Regions from separate parts of the Homo sapiens genome. Here region 2 is linked to region 1. The links come from fine-mapping of genetic effects on gene expression. Tissue or cell type: whole blood. Region 1 holds a variant in brackets; the other region holds the start of a gene. All regions are shown on one strand. Distances are from middle to middle.

Region 1 (8,105 bases):
TTTTTTTTACTTTATATACATCTATTAAGATTTTCTATTTGTTCTTTAGTCAATTTTGCTACTTAATGTCTTTATCGGAATTTGCTTATTTCATTTATGTTGCTAAACTTGTTGACATTTGTTGTTCCTCATAATATCTTAAATTCCTTTAAAATTTCTGTTGAATCTGTTGTGAGGTTCTATCTTTCATTCTTTTTTTTTTTTTCTCAGACAGAGTCTTGCTCTTGTCACCCAGGCTGGATCCAGCATCCTGCTACTGGATATATAGATAAAAGAGAAATATTATATCTTTGAGATATGGAATCAACCTAAGTGCTGCTCTAAGCATACAAGTGCAGATATCTTTTTTATATAGTATGTCTCCTTTATGTATATATTCAGTAGCAGGATTGCTGTATTCCATATCTTTATGATAGCAAAGATATGAAATCAATCTAAGTGTCCATCAATAGATGATTGGCTAAAGAAAATGTGGTATGCATACAGTGGAATACTATTCAGCCATAAAAACAACAAAATCCACAATATTCTCATGTAACAAATCTGCACATGTATCCCTATGTCTAAAATAAACTTCAAAATTTTAAAAAGAATGAAATTATGTCTTTTGCAGCAACATGGATGGAAATGAAGGTCATTATCTTAAGTAAAATAACAGAAACAGAAAGTCAAATACTGCATGTTCTCACTTATAAATAGGAGCTAAATAACACATACTCATGGACACAGAGTGGAATAATAGTCATTGGAGGCTCAGAAGGGTGTGTGAGTCAGAGGGGTGAGGGTTGAGAAATTTCATAGTGGATATAATGTGCACTCTTCAGGGAATGTTTACACTACGAGTCCAGACTTCACCACTACCCAGTATGTTCGTGTAACAAAACTACACTCGTACCCCTTAAATTTATACAAATACAAATTAAAACATGCATCAGAGAGGACCTTAATTTTTTTCTCTTTTTCTCTTTCTTTCTTTCTTCTTTTTGACAGAGTTTTGCTCTTGTCACCCAGGCTGGAGTGCAGTGGTGTGATCTCAGCTCACTGCAACCTCTGCCTCCCGGATTCAAGTGATTCTCCTGCCTCAGCCTCGAGAGTAGCTGGGATTCCAGGCCTGAGCCGCCACTAGTAGAGTTGGGGTTTTAACATGTTGGCCAGGCTGGTCTTGAACTCCTGACCTCAGATGATCTGCCTGCCTTGGCCTCCCAAAGTGCTGGGATTACAGGCGTGAGTCACTGCGCCTGGCCAAAATCAGTTATCAATTAATTTTTAAACATGTAACTAGCAGGGGTCCCAGTAGTGGGGGGACCATTATTGCATGCTTTGAAATTTGAGGGTCCCATTCTGCTTATTAATCTCTAGGGAGCAAAAAACAAAACAAAAAAAACAGAACAAACCAAAAAACTCTACGATGCCTATCAGGGAATGTTTAAGATTTGTACCAGTGTTCTGTGTTACAATGTGTTTGACACAGAATTTTGTTTTACTTGATGGGCAGGCTGTGATCTAATTGCCTAGTTGTGACCAATTTTTCCCTAGATGCATAAATTTTTTTCTGAGACTAGCTGACCACTAGGGGTCACCTTGCCTGCCTGTGTACTGGTTAATTAATCCTTACCCAACAGACTTTTCCTTCCAAGACTTTTTCTTCCAAGACTGTCCTAATAGCTTTTTAATTTTTTTTGTTTGTTTGTTTTTGCTTTTGTTTTTTAGACAGAATCTTGCTCTGTTGCTCAGGGTGGAGTGCAATGGCATAATCTCGGCTTACTGCAACCTCTACCTCCCAGATTCAAGTAATTCTCCTGTCTCAGCCTCCTGAGGAGCTGGGACTACAGGCGTGCCCACCATGCCCAACTAATTTTTGTATTTTTTCTAGAGAAGGGGTTTTCCCATGTTGGTCAGACTGGTCTGGAACTCCTGACCTCAGGTGTTCCACCCGCCTCGGCCTTCCAAAGTGCTGTAATTGCAGGCATGAGCCACCACACCTGGCCCCTAATGGCTTCGAAAGGGTTGACTCAGGCCCACCTCTATAGAAAGTAGATTTTGCTTTCAAGAAACATTTAGGGCCAGGTGCAGTGGCTCATGCATGTAATTTGGGAGGCTGAGGCAGTAGGATCCACTGAGGCCGGGAGTTCAGGACTGGCCTGGGCTACATAGTGAGACCCTGTCTCTACGAGATACAAAAAAAAAACAAAAAATTAGCCGGGTGTGCTGGCATGTGCCTATAGTCCCAGCTGCTGGGGAGGCTGTGGTGAGAGGATCACTTGAGCCCAGGAGGCCGAGGCTACAGTGAACTATGATTGCACCACTGCACTCTTGCCAGGGTGACAGAGCAAGACCCTGTCTAAAAATATGTATATATTTTACACTAGTTCCTTATCAATTTTTTAAATATGATTTTCTGCATAATCCTGGCAATGTCTTTTTTTAAATCTATGAACATGAACACATAACATTCTGATTGATTCTGTTAACATAATTTATTACATTAATGGATTTCCAAGTGTTGACTCTCACTTGCATTTCTGGCACAAAAGGCAGTGGGATTATGATGTAATGTTGCAATGTGCTCACACAGTGGCTTCTAGTGCTGACACAATGGCTTCTAATATTTAAAAAGTCTACATTTATATTCACATGTCCTATACTTTTGTAATACATGGCTCAAACCAGGGTAAGATCTCATATCACCTTTATGCACCCTTCCTGAAAACTATTGGGAAGATTGACTAAGACTTGAATAGTTTAGGTAGCGTCAGGTTATCAGTTAGTTTACTAGTAGAATTTCTCTCTGGATCATATGAACTTGGTGCTTCTGTGTATTTGAGGGACTCTGATAAATGTCTCTTTTTCTTTTATAAATATTGTACAATTTAGAATCTCTATCTCTCTAGGGGTAAACGTTAATAAAATATATATTTATAGAATATATAACATCTACATTTGATTAATTTACATTGGAATGCCCAACATTGTTCCCATTTATTTTTCATATCAGTATTTGACTTCAAGTTGCTGTTTGCACTGTAATCTGTTCACATATCCTTCTCAAGTTCCTCGCATGATCCCGTCTCTCCGTTCACAGTGAAATAATAGTTTGGCTCAGGAATCTGAGGATTAACAGAAAATTGGGTTTTCTGTAGGGGACCATCTCAGGAAAGCACAGACTCCAGTAAAACATGTGCACTCTGCTGCCAGCCCCTAGTCTAGACTCACCCCTTCCTGCTCCCTCCCTAGGAGCCCCTTCCTGTTGCCTCCAGGGATTATGGAAAGCAACAGCCTCTGCCAAACACTCTCATCTTGCTAGAGATGCCCACTAGAATGTGGGGAAAAGAAAGAGAGATCAGACTGTTACTGTGTCTATGTAGAAAGAAGTAGACATAAGAGACTCCATTTTGTTCTGTACTAAGAAAAATTCTTCTGCCTTGAGATGCTGTTAAATCTGTAACCCTAGCCCCAACCCTGTGCTTGCAGAGACATGTGCTGTGTTGACTCAAGGTTTAATGGATTTAGGGCTATGCAGGATGTGCTTTGTTAAACAAGTGCTTGAAGGCAGTATGCTTGTTAAAAGTCATCACTACTCTCTAATCTCAAGTACCCAGGGACACAATACACTGTGGAAGGCTGCAGGGGCCTCTGCCTAGGAAAGCCAGGTATTGTCCAAGGTTTCTCCCCATGTGATAACCTGAGACATGGCCTCGTGGGAAGGGAAAGACCTGACCATCCCCCAGCCCAACACCCGTAAAGGGTCTGTGCTGAGGAGGATTAGTGAAAGAGGAAGGCCTCTTTGCAGTTGAGACAAGAGGAAGGCATCTGTCTCCTGCTCGTCCCTGGGCAATGGAATGTCTCGGTGTAAAACCCGATTGTATGTT[C/T]CATCTACTGAGATAGGAGAAAACCACCTTAGGGCTGGAGATGAGACATGCTGGTGGCAATACTGCTCTTTAATGCACCGAGATGTTTGTGTATGTGCACATCAAAGCACAGCACCTTTTCTTAACCTTGCTCATGACACAGAGACCTTTGTTCACATGTTTTCCTGCTGACCCTCTCCCCACTATTACCCTATTGTCCTGCCACATCCACCTCTCCGAGATGGTAGAGATAATGATCAATACATACTGAGGGAACTCAGAGACTGGTGCTGGCACGGGTCCTCCGTATGCTGAGTGCTGGTCCCCTGGGCCCACGTTTCTTTCTCTATACTTTGTCTCTGTGTCTCTTTCTTTTCTCAGTCTCTCGTTCCATCGGATGAGAAACAACCACAGGTGTGGAGGGGCTGGCCCCCTTCACAGAAAATTGTACTTGTTTTTGGTAATTGGTAACTGGGACAAAGTTTATTGAAATATCTTTAGCTCCCCAAATGTGCACTGTCATTGTTGCCACAGGTGAACTGCTCATTGCAGTGATGTGAAAAGGTGAGGTCACAGGACACAAACCCATATCTGAGACCTGGATGCCTCCCTCCACGCACTCACCCACTGGCTGTCCTGAGCATCACCCTGCACCTGTTGTCCCAGCAACAAGGGAAAAATAAGGTGAGTATTTTCCATTTCAGTCTAGAAGGCATAGCCTGCAAGGGAAGGAAGTGTGCTGGGAGATGGAGCAGGGCTTTTGTCTGGAAAACAGGATTCTGGTCTAGAAACTAAGTCAGTGCCAATGCAATGCAGGGAAGGGGAAATCATCACTGGGTCATGGGCTGCACTCGTGGAGAAGGAATGGAGGTCAAGACCATAAACCAGCCCCTAACTGCTTCTCATTTAATGTAATCCTCACTGTTCATCATTGTTGGTTTGAATAAAGTCATGAAATCTTTTTTTTTTTTTTTTGAGACAGGTCTATTGCTCAGGCTGGAGTGAAGTGGTGCAATTGTGGCTCACTGCAGCCTTGAATACCTCAGCTCAAACGATCCTCCCACCTCAGCCTCCTGAGTAGCTGGGACCACAGGCATGTGCCACCACACTCAGCACACTTAAAAAAAATTTTTGTAGAGACAGGTTCTCCCTATGTTGCTCAGGCTGGTCTCCTGGCCTCAAGCAATCCTCTTGCTTCAGCCTCCCAAAGTGTTGGGATTATAGGCATAAGCCATTCACACCCAGCCTATTTTTAAGTTCTCTAATATAATTTGGAAATTAATTTGCCAGCTGCCCTGTCTTATCTGCATGAACATTTCCAAGATTTGTAGAGGTGTTTCTATGACACCTCCATGCCTGTGATCATGTATAAGATGTAGCTGATTGAATTACCTTATTCTGTTCAGAAATAGTAAATATAGTGTTTTCACCAACTCTGTGCACAGAATATACCAAATGGAGACCATAAGTGTGTCATGACAGAAAAAATCTATTGTCTCTTTATTATGGTGAGACTCCTTTCCCTCATGAAATCAGCAAAGAAAAGTAAATGAATTTAGCTTTTTGTGTTAGAAAAAAACATTATGCTCTTCAGCGGTTTTCAGAATTGCATTATTTTTGATCTTTCCTCTTGTTTAAGAATGTTTTCATGTCATCCCCAGGCTCAGTGCTCATGTTGGTACTATTTTGGGTCAATGTATAATCATTACCTCCAGTTTTTCTTGTGCATAATGGACTTGAGTTTTAATATAGTGAACCATCCTGACATTGAAATACTGTATTTGATATTTTCATATTCACAAGTCCTCATTTTCTTTCTACACTCATGGTAATTTAGTTTCTCCTCTGCAGTGTTTTCCCTCCTACTTGTTTTCCTGCTCCCTTGCTTAGCACATGGTCATTCCATTATGCCCTCCTTCTTGGTTAAGATGGAAAAGAACCTCCTCTTTTAATTCCATTTGTGCATTTAAGAAATTCCATTTGGTTGTATATAATTATTCTTCTAAGATTATGCTAAGATCAGCACATCTATATTTTACTTGGATCTCTGATCACTATAGATGATATTTGCCTATAAAACAAGCATTGGTGTTTTCAATCACAATCAAAAAGAAAAAATTCAAAACGATTCTTTTAAAAACTCACAAGAGATACAAAAATATTTTTTAAATACATGGATTGTCTTAAAAATTATTTCTCTCTGTTGCTATGACAGCATAGTGGTCAAGTCCATTGTCAGCTTCTGACACTGCCTCTTACAAGGAGGTGACTTTGGAAATGTCATTCAGCCTTCCTGTGCCCGAAATCACCTCACCTGTCAAATGGGAACAATAAAGCACTTCAAAGAATTGTTGTAAAAGTTCTATGTAAAACACTGTTACAGCACTCTTATGCTGGGAATATATATCTATACACACATATATTTTTATAGCGAAACTCTCAGGAAGAGGAAAATGAAGTTTAATAGGAAATTAATGGCTTGAAAACAATGGTACATGGAAAAGAGTGGCTTTCAGTTGCCATAGTACAACAGGCCTCTTGTTTTCACGCCAGATCCTCTCACTCTGAATAGGATGATCAGTCATTGAAAAAAGAAAAATGGCCTCCAGGGATGTGGCAATAGGAATGATCTTCTTATCTCAGACCACAGTAGGATTCCTGGGCAATTGCTTTGTTCTTCACCATTATAGTTATTTATTTCACCAGATGCACATTAAGGTCCACAGATCTGATTCTGCAGCACCTGACTGTAGCCAACTCCTTGGTCATTCTCTCTAAAAAATGCTCCTATCCTTGTCAATGCTTGGTATTGGAAATCCTTTTAATTTAAGTCATTCTGGTGGTAGTTTTATTATCTCATTATAATTTCAATGTCCACGATACAGCTATTTTTTTTTTTTTTTTGAGACAGAGTCTGACTCTGTTGCCCAGGCTGGAGTGCAGTGGTGCCATCTCGCTCACTGCAACCTCTGCCTCCCAGGTTCAAGTGTTTCCTGTGCCTTGGCCTCCTTAGTAGCTGGGATTATAGGTGTGCACCACCAAGCCCAGGTAATTTTTGTATTTTTAGTAGAGATGGGGTTTTGTCATGTTGCCCAGGCTGGTCTCCAACTCCTGGCCTCAAGGGATCCACCCGCCTCGACCTCCCAAAGTGTTGAGATTACAGGCATGAGCCACTGTGCTCAGCCATGACATAGCTATTAATATAGAACTTTTCATGTGGGCCTATAGGTCAATCTAGGAATTTGCCCTTTCAGAGGCTATTCATATTTATATGCATATTGGTGCATGGCAGGGGTTGGTGTATACACCTTGGTGTATGGCTGAGCCATAAATGGAGCATACCTGAGAATAACCCTATTCTAAGTGTGTTTGGAGTCCCAGGCTAAGGAATCCAGGAGTAGCCAACACTGAGATTCACTACTTACCTATGAAGGACAGCCATACCCCTGCCCCATCCCTTGGAACACAGCCTGTACAGGTGATCAAGGCCCTTTATTTTGGGTTAAATGGAGACTGCTAGAAGGAGGGTTCTAAGTGAAAATGCGATATGCTATATGGACTACATGCTTTTTTTTTTTTATACAAACGGTAGCGTTTCTCCAGGCCAGCCCACCACCACTGGACCACCCCTGTATGTAACTCCTGAATAAACGTTATGTTTCCTTCACTGGTTCTGCCTCTCCTATAGTGTCATCCCAATCGGAATCAATGGGGATCCGGAAGGACAACCGGCCATTTAGATAACATTTGAAAATTAACCAATGTAATTGGTCACATTGTAACATTATTATTAAAATATTATTTTAAAATTATTATTATATAACAGTAACATATTATTATTAAAAATACATATGAACATTTCAATAAAGGTAGAAAAAGCACTTGATATTGAATGCTTTCCTCTTGATTTTACAACCAAGACAAGGAAGTCCATTATCACTATTTCTATTCAATAGTGGACATACTAGCCAGCAACAAAACTAAAAGGTATAAAGATTACAGGAAAGTTAAACCATCTCTATTCACAGACTGCAAGATTGTAATCACATAAATTCCAAAAGACTCTACAGACTCTACAGTCCCACGGCAGCCCCTTCCTCCGCGCCGCGGCGGCGCCTCCGGCCCACGTCACGCTCGCGCCATTGTTTCCCAGCCGCTGCTCGCTGGGACCCCGCCAGCCCTCGAGCGCGGCCATTCGCCGCGTTCTGCCCTCTCCCCCCTTTCCTCACGCTGGTGGTGGCCCTTTCCTCAGTCCTG
Region 2 (8,097 bases), 68 kb after region 1:
GGCAGCATGGCAGGGGTGCTCTACCACTCCCATAGCCTGTGATCTGGGCCCTGGCACCAGGAGTCTATGGTTCTGTCTTGAGTCACAGGCTGGCAGTGGGGCCAGAGGGCAGGTACTCAGTGATGGCTCCCTGATTCACCACGGGGCCTCCCAGCCTATAGAGGCCTGGAGGGTAGGGTGCATCTTTCTGGGTCAAGGGTCATTAGAGTCCTCATGTGGGGGTTCTATATATGTGTGAGCCCATGGCGAGGCTCTCATGTGAATGGGATCCCTGATCATGGGAGCAGAGCTCAGTGTCTATAGGCAAGTGTGTGACTGCAAACCACAGGGTGTGTGTGTGTGTCTGTGTGTTTGTGTGTGTGTATGCGCAAGCACCTGCATGTATGTGAATCTACTTCATGTGTATGCTAAACCCATCTCTTTGGGCATGAACCACCTCTGGGACTGGGAGCCCTTATTTCCTTTCTTTTCTTTTCTTTTTTAACATGCCTATCTAGGCCAGGTACGGTGAATCATGCCTGTAATCCCAGCACTTTGGGAGGCCGAGACGGGTGGATCACCTGAGGTCAGGAGTTCGAGACCAGCCTGGCCAACGTGGTGAAACCCCGTCTCTACTAAAAAAAACAAAAAACAAAAAACAAAAAAATTGGCTGGACATGGTGGTGCATGCCTGTAATCCCAGCTACTCGGGAAGCTGAAGCAGGAGAATCGCTTGAACCCAGGTGGGGTGATCTTGGCTCACTGCAACCTCTGCCTCCTGGGTTCAAGTGATCCTCCTGTCTCAGCCTCCCGAGTAGCTGGGATTACAGGCATGTGGCAGAGGTGGTTGATGCCCAAAGAGATGGGTTTAGCAATACTCATAATCCTACAATCCAAGCACTCTAGGAGGCCAAGGTGGGCAAATTGCTTGAGCTCGGGAGTTCCAGACCAGCCTGGCCAACATGGCGAAACCCCTTCTCTACAAACAATACAAAAATTAGCCGGGCATCGTGATGCATGCCTGTAGTCCCAGCTATTTGAGAGGCTGAGGTGGGAGGATTGTTTGATCCCATGAGCTAGAGGCTGGAGTGAGTCATCATCCATGTTTTTAAGAGCTTGTTTAGCTTCTTCTGCTACCTCTCCTGACACAACCTGTCCACTTGAAGGGTCCATGCCTATCTGTCCTGAAATGTCAATGGTCCTGTCACCTAACATAGTTTGACTGTAGGTCCCAGTGGCCCCTGGGGCTTTCTTGGTGCTGATCACATTTCTGATCAAGGACGACAGGACTAACCCTTCTCTCTTTTGGTCCCTCTGGGAGAAGAACCTCTGCACTAGCCCTGCTCGCTTCTCAATGAACCGTGGGAGCCCTTTTTTTTTTTTTTTTTTTTGAGATGGAGTTTGGCTCTTGTTGCCCAGGCTGGAGTGCAATGGCATGATCTCAGGTCACTGCAACTTCCGCCTCCTGGGTTCAAGTGATTCTCCTGCCTCAGCCTCCCGAACAGCTGAGATTACAGGCACCCGCCATCACGCCCGGCTAATTTTTGGTATTTTTAGTAGAGACAGGGTTTCACCATGTTGGTCAGTGTGGTCTTGAACTCCTGACCTCAGGTGATCTGCCCGCCTCGGCCTCCCAAAGTGCTGGGATTATAGGCGTGAGCCACCACGCCCAGCCGGGGGCCCTTATTTCTCATATTCGTCCCTCAAGGGACAAGTCCTCAGGGTCATTAGCCCACCTGGATTAAGTCCCTCTGGAAAATGATTTCTTTGATCTCCTCTGGCAATGCTGCCATAGAAGCTCAGCCTAAGGGCATGTTGTTTGCTCCCAGGCCACCAGATGTTTCCTTGTTATTAAAAGCAGCATAGAGGGCAAGGTTGCACTTCGGGAGGCCGAGGTGGGAGGATCGTTTAAAGCCAGGAGTTTGAGACTAACCTGGGCAACATAGCAAGACCTCATTTTTACAACAGATTTTTAAAAATTAGCTGAGTGTCATGGTGGCACATAGTCCCTATAGTCCCATCCATTCTGGAGGCTGAGGTGGGAGGATCACTTGGGCCCAGGAGTTCGAGGCTACAGTGAGCTGTGATTGCACCACAGCCTGGGTGATGGAGCAAGACCCTACTCTTTAAAAAGAGAGAGAGGGCAAGGTTGTCCCATGATCCCCCTCAGATAGGGCTGACTCCCCCATAATTAAGTTTGCTTAAAGAGGCAGACTTGCTGGGCTCAGTGGCTCACGCCTGTAATCCCAGCACTTTGGGAGGCTGAGGCGGGTGGATAACTTGTGGTCAGGAGTTCGAAATCAGCCTGGTCAACATGGTGAATCCCCATCTCCACTAAAAAAACAAAAATTAGCTGGGCATGGTGGTGTGCACCTGTAATCCCAGCTAATCGGGAGGCTGAAGCAGGAGAATCACTTGAACCTGGGAGGTGGAGGTTGCAGGGAGCCGAGATCACGCCATTGCACTCCACCTAGGCGACAGAGAGAGACTCCGTCTAAAAAAAAAAAAGAGACAGACTCTTCCTTGGCTGGGGGTAAGTCAGATGGGAGAGGAGAGGGTTAAAAACAGCTGGGACTCAGCCTGCTGGCAAACATGTGGCATGTGGCATGTCGGGGCAACTGCAGCTCAGCCTCTGGAGCCATGTGAGCAATGCACGCAGGTACACGTGTGACAAGCTAGGTCACCTAGCCATGTTCAACAGGCATGTGCACAGCCACGAGGAATGCCCAGCCGTACAATTAGGCACACAGGACATCCGCCATGTGTAGACACAGCTGTGGACATAGCTGGCCAGGACATGCGACACACGACGTGCTCATAGCACAGGGAGAAGGGCCCATGAAGTCTGGTTGGAACTCAGCACGTGTGTCTGTGTGCCCACCTGAGTCTGGACTGCTGCCCCTCTGACACTAGCTGTCCCCTTGAAGGGTCGGTGCCTTATCTGTCCTGACAGAAGAGACAGTGTTGCTTCTCACTTGGGGCTCGCAGCCTCCTCCTCCTGCCTCGAACTGAGGATCTGTTGGGTCCAGTCATCCTGGAGAGATGCGGCCAGTTTCTTTCTGACAGGTCTCCTCCTGCCCGCAAGGAAGTGGGGTGATCACAGGGCGCAGGTGGTCTCTATGACAGCTGCATCCTCTCCAGCCATGGCCCTGAACCCTGCCTATAATCCCACCATTGGCTCTCAGATCTGCCTAAGCCTCTCAGCCCCCTTGACGTCCCCTCCCTTAAGCGCCCTCCGAAGGCCACCCGTCCCTCAAAGCTCCTCACACTCCATGCCCGCAGCTCCCTCCACCCGGCGTCCGCACCAGCCTCCCAGCCGAGGTGGGGCGGGGGCGAGGGGGCGCGCACTCCTCGGCGCTCCGGGACTGCAGGGCGGGGCTGCAGGGCGGGCGGGGCCCGTGTCTCCAGCGCTCCTATAAAGGGAGCCACCAGCGCTGGAGGCCGCTGCTCGCTGCGCCACCGCCTCCCGCCACCCCTGCCCGCCCGACAGCGCCGCCGCCTGCCCCGCCATGGGTCGACAGAAGGAGCTGGTGTCCCGCTGCGGGGAGATGCTCCACATCCGCTACCGGCTGCTCCGACAGGCGCTGGCCGAGTGCCTGGGGACCCTCATCCTGGTGGTGAGTGGAGGGAGCCGGGGAAGCCCTTCTCTCTCCAGCCCTTGCACTCCCCAAACTCTCACTTCCCCGAAGGGGCTGTGTTTTCCAAGGTAGCCTGGACCCACCTCCCCAGCTGTGACCCCCACGCTTAACCGCGGAGGATCAAGCTGACTTCCAAAGTCCTCTTCCCCACGGTTCTAACCCCCTCTCTGACAGCTCCGACTCTTGCCAGAATGACAGCTGTTACTCCCCAGTGATAGTGCCGATCGTTTACCCTCCCACAAGTGACTCAGCCAACAGGCTGGGGGCAGCGGTCACGCTTGCAGTCTGGGACAGCCAGCCACTTCCCCTGCCTCCCACACCCCTCCAGATTCCCAGAATCCCAGCCCCCAGATGTAGGGGAGGGGGCGGAGGCAAATGAGCCATTATTAGGTTATTTGGGTCCTGGGTGTCTGGCCTCTAATGAATAATTAAGCCTCAAAAAGTCCAAAGGTTGAAGTGAGTGAGGACAGTTTGCACGAGTGGGGGCAGAGGGTGCAGGCCACATGGGCTGCGAACAGCGAAGTGGGAAGGGAGGCAGATTCTGACGGTAGAAGGGTGGGAGGAAGCTAGGCCCAGGCACAGAGGACGCGTGTCTAAAGTTGCTCACCTGGTGCTCAGCGACTCCCAGGCCCTGTCTGTTATCCAGACAGATGCTGTCAGCGTCTGTGCAGAAGACGACAAGCATTCTGGTTACTCCCTGGCCTCTTGGTTACTCTGTGGGTTCTCTGAGTGAGCATTTCCCTGCCTGAGTTACTCCTCAGTCCTAGTTACTCCTTGGTCACACCAGTTTCACCCTGGTTTTGTTCTGAGTGACTCTGTTTGCACTTCTTAGGTCTGGCAGACCCACCAGTTATGTTCTATTTCCTGTCCCAGTTACTCTGATTTTTCAGCCGCTCATGTGGTTACACCTGTTTTCCTCTGTGTTCAGTTGCTACATTGCAGTGAGTGGGTTACTCCGTTCCTGCCCCAGCCCTGGGTAGTACAGACCAGCTGGCCCACTGTGGACTAGGAAGCCTAACTAAGGGCAAGTAGGGATCCCCAAATGGTTGAGGATCAGGATCTATGGGCAGAGGAGGGCTGAAACCCACTTCTGGCTTCCAAGAATAGGAAGTGGGGAAGCCACAGGGGGCATTTTATCCACAGCCTCCCATAAGATTAGTCGTCCTATCAGCCAGCCCTAGCCCCTCTCTCCTGTGCCAAGAAGGCAATAGGAGGTGGCCTTTATCACTCTCCTGCCTCGGAGCCCTCACTCCTATCGGAGTCCTGAGTCCAGCCACCTGTTTTAGAGCAGCCAGGCTAGGGGAGGATGATGTCTTCTATTTTCCTAGAGGGGCCTCCTCATTCCCTCCCAAGTCTCAGTTCACTCTCTCACAAAGGAGCCGTTAGTCCTCCCACTGAGCCCCAGGATCATCAGGCTTATCCCAGACCACAAAAGAAGAGTGTTAAATTTTAGGGGAAGGGTTGCAGACTCAGATGGATGTGAGGTATTGGATATCAGTGAGAAGCAGAACTTCAAGGACTGCATGAACTGGAGGGGCAGGCCTGGGGATCCCTTTGTAGTGGGTGAGTGCCTGCCTGCCTACCTGCGTGTTGGGAGCCTAGGCCTGCAGTGGCAGAATCAGGGTTGGCTTTGGGGTGAGGAAAGCCCCTTTCTCTGAGATACCTGGTGTGAGGGCAGGGGGCGGTGCTGGCCGAGAACTCAGGGCAGGGGTTGGGGGAGGAAGAGGAAGATTAGCCCCAAGGTGGTGGAACTGGCTCTGACAGCTCCTCCCTCCAAGGCGTCCTGGGATGGAGCCAGGTCTGAGCCTTTGGCAGGCAAGGAGCTGCTGCCAGGGCCTCCCAAGCAGGGCAGGGCGCCTCAGACCCTCACGTGCCTGTCTCCCACCACCCCTCCTCACACATACACCTGCAATCTCTGATCTTTGCTCTCACCTGCCTGCACACCTTTGCCCCATGTCATTGCCGCTGGCTTCTCCGTTATCTCTTGGTCTTTCTGGGATGATAATCAAAATGCTTAACTATCCAGTACAACAGGCACTGACCCGTCAGAATAAACAAGGTCTGTAGCACAGGTCCTGGAAACTGCCTGCTCTGTGGGCATAAAACCTTTAGTTATGGGCAGGTGGGAGAGGAGACCAGGGCAAGGCATTGGAGCAGCTTTGAGGGACACTCAGGGGGCTCAGGGCAACAATGCTTTACAGCTGCTGCAGAAGTATTTTCAGGCTTGAACAAGGGGAACAGACATAGTACGTTCTTTTTCTTTTTTAAATAGAGACAAAGTCTCACTATGTTGCCCAGGCTGTTCTCAAACTCCTGGGTTCAAGATCCTCCCATCTCAGCCTCCAAAGTGCTGGGATTACAGGTGTGAGCCACCACAGCTGGCTCCAGTATGTTCTATATTTGTAGAACACCAGGGCTCTTAGTCTCTTTTAGTTCCCCCATTTTTGGCAGAAAGTTTAGAACCGATCTCCCCATTTCTACAGCCCTGGGTCCCGGGCTGGGGATAGTGAGAGGAGCCACACAGATCCCTGTCTGTAGGACCTCCAAATCTGAGTGGGGAATCTGGACCCCTGAGAGCAGAGAGGTCATGGGTGGAGAGAGGAGACGCTGGGACAGGGACAGGTAAAGGAAGGGGAGGTTGTTGAGGGGGACATGGTGAAGGCTGGGGCTCTGGCATCCTGGACTCAGGAGAAGTGGATTCAACCTCACTTCTGGTCTCCTCCCTATTTATTTATGCCGCCCATTGCCACCACTACCACCACCACATGAGCTTTTCTTTTCAACTCTTTTTTTTTTTTTTTTGAGATGGAGTCCCGCTCTGTCGCCCAGGCTGAAGTGCAGTGGCGCAATCTTGGCTCACTGCAACATCTGCCTCCCATTTTCAAGTGATTCTCCTGCCTCAGCCTCCCGAGTAGCTGGGATTACAGGCACCTGCCACCACGCCTGGCTAATTTTTGTACTTTTAGTAGAGATGGGGTTTCACTATGTTGGCCAGGCTGGTCTCAAACTCCTGACCTCAGGTGATCCACCCACCTCGGCCTACCAAAGTGCTGGGATTACAGTGTGAGCCACTGCACCGGGCCTACATGAGCTTTTCTTTGGGGCAGCTGGGGGATGAGTGAGAGGCTTCCCACCTTTATGGTCCAGGCCTGAAGGGCTGTGGAGAAACTTGTGCTAAGGTGAAAGCTGTTCCCCTACACCTACGCCTGCTGAAATTCAAGGAAAATCAGTGAAGATGGTTCAGTCATCTTCTAGGATCCCAGTCGCAGACCCTGCTTCCAGCCCTTTCCATAGGGCCCTCTCATATTAGAGTTGGGACAGTGGGGTGGGAAGGCATGTGTCCTTTTTCTGGAAAGTGCAATTACAGCAGAAGGGGTTTGGGCTGGGTTCCAGGAAGCGCCTCTAGTCCTCCCAGTGGTGGCGAGTGGGCATGTTGCTGGCTTCACCCCTTCCTTCTGGAGTGAGAGTTGCTGGTCCTCACCCTCCCTGCCTGTTCTTCTTCCTGACAGATGTTTGGCTGTGGCTCCGTGGCCCAGGTTGTGCTCAGCCGGGGCACCCACGGTGGTTTCCTCACCATCAACCTGGCCTTTGGCTTTGCTGTCACTCTGGGCATCCTCATCGCTGGCCAGGTCTCTGGTAAGGCCTTAACCCTGCCCCCAGCCCTTGGCCCTCAATAGCATTCCCACTAGGTGTCCTGGCATTCCTAAGGGCAGGTCACAGCTGTGGCCTCTGCTTTGGCCCCTTGGGAAAGGAGGGTGGAGAAGAAACTTGACACTTAGAACTTTCGACTCTCACCTTGGAATCAGAGATTATCAGCTGACCTGTTACATAGACCAACCGCCATCCTGTGCAAGAAACCCCTCTCTGCACCCCTTCTCAGGGGACCCTAGCCTGCCGACTGTGGCAGGCTGCAGCTAATAGGTCCCTTGTCCCCTCTGCCCAGGGGCCCACCTGAACCCTGCCGTGACCTTTGCCATGTGCTTCCTGGCTCGTGAGCCCTGGATCAAGCTGCCCATCTACACCCTGGCACAGACGCTGGGAGCCTTCTTGGGTGCTGGAATAGTTTTTGGGCTGTATTATGGTAAGCATTCCCCACCCTGTCCTCCTCCACTACCCCCGTCCCTCTGTTCAGGACCTGCTGGCACCAGGCCTTTTGATGACAGACGGCTAGGACCTGCCCAGGCCCCGGGCTCATGACTCACTCATTCACGCACAGGGTCAAGGTAGGGGGCACGAAGGGAAAGAAACAAGTTGGGCAATAACAGAGTCTCAGGCCCTCCACCCCACCCCACGCCACCCCCTCTGCCTGCTGCAATACAGCAGTATTGCTACTTACCCATAACTCATGGGAGGGTGGGGAGGGCACACCTGAGAGGGAAGTCTGGGCTCAGGCCTCTCCCCCGACTCACTGTGTGTCTAATCTGTCACCAGATGCAATCTGGCACTTCGCCGACAACCAGCTTTTTGTTTCGGGCCCCAA

The links. PIP is the estimated chance that this variant, and not a neighbour inherited with it, causes the effect.
Region 2: AQP3 starts here. The variant in region 1 is fine-mapped to the expression of AQP3 in whole blood (TOPMed, PIP above 0.99).

The regions. Positions count from the first base shown.
Region 1 is chr9:33,511,051-33,519,155 of GRCh38, reverse strand. It overlaps the pseudogene SUGT1P1 and the pseudogene VN1R47P. Among named protein-coding and RNA genes, the nearest start is that of ANKRD18B, 9.1 kb to the left of the region's middle. The variant C/T (reference allele first, on the strand shown) is at 3,870.
Region 2 is chr9:33,442,922-33,451,018 of GRCh38, reverse strand. It overlaps AQP3 (aquaporin 3 (Gill blood group)), which reads left to right and starts at 3,426. Exons shown (of 6, transcript NM_004925.5): 1 at 3,426-3,596; 2 at 7,127-7,253; 3 at 7,561-7,698; 4 at 8,049-8,097. The coding sequence starts at 3,489. RefSeq lists a silencer at 3,251-3,440 and an enhancer at 7,074-8,097.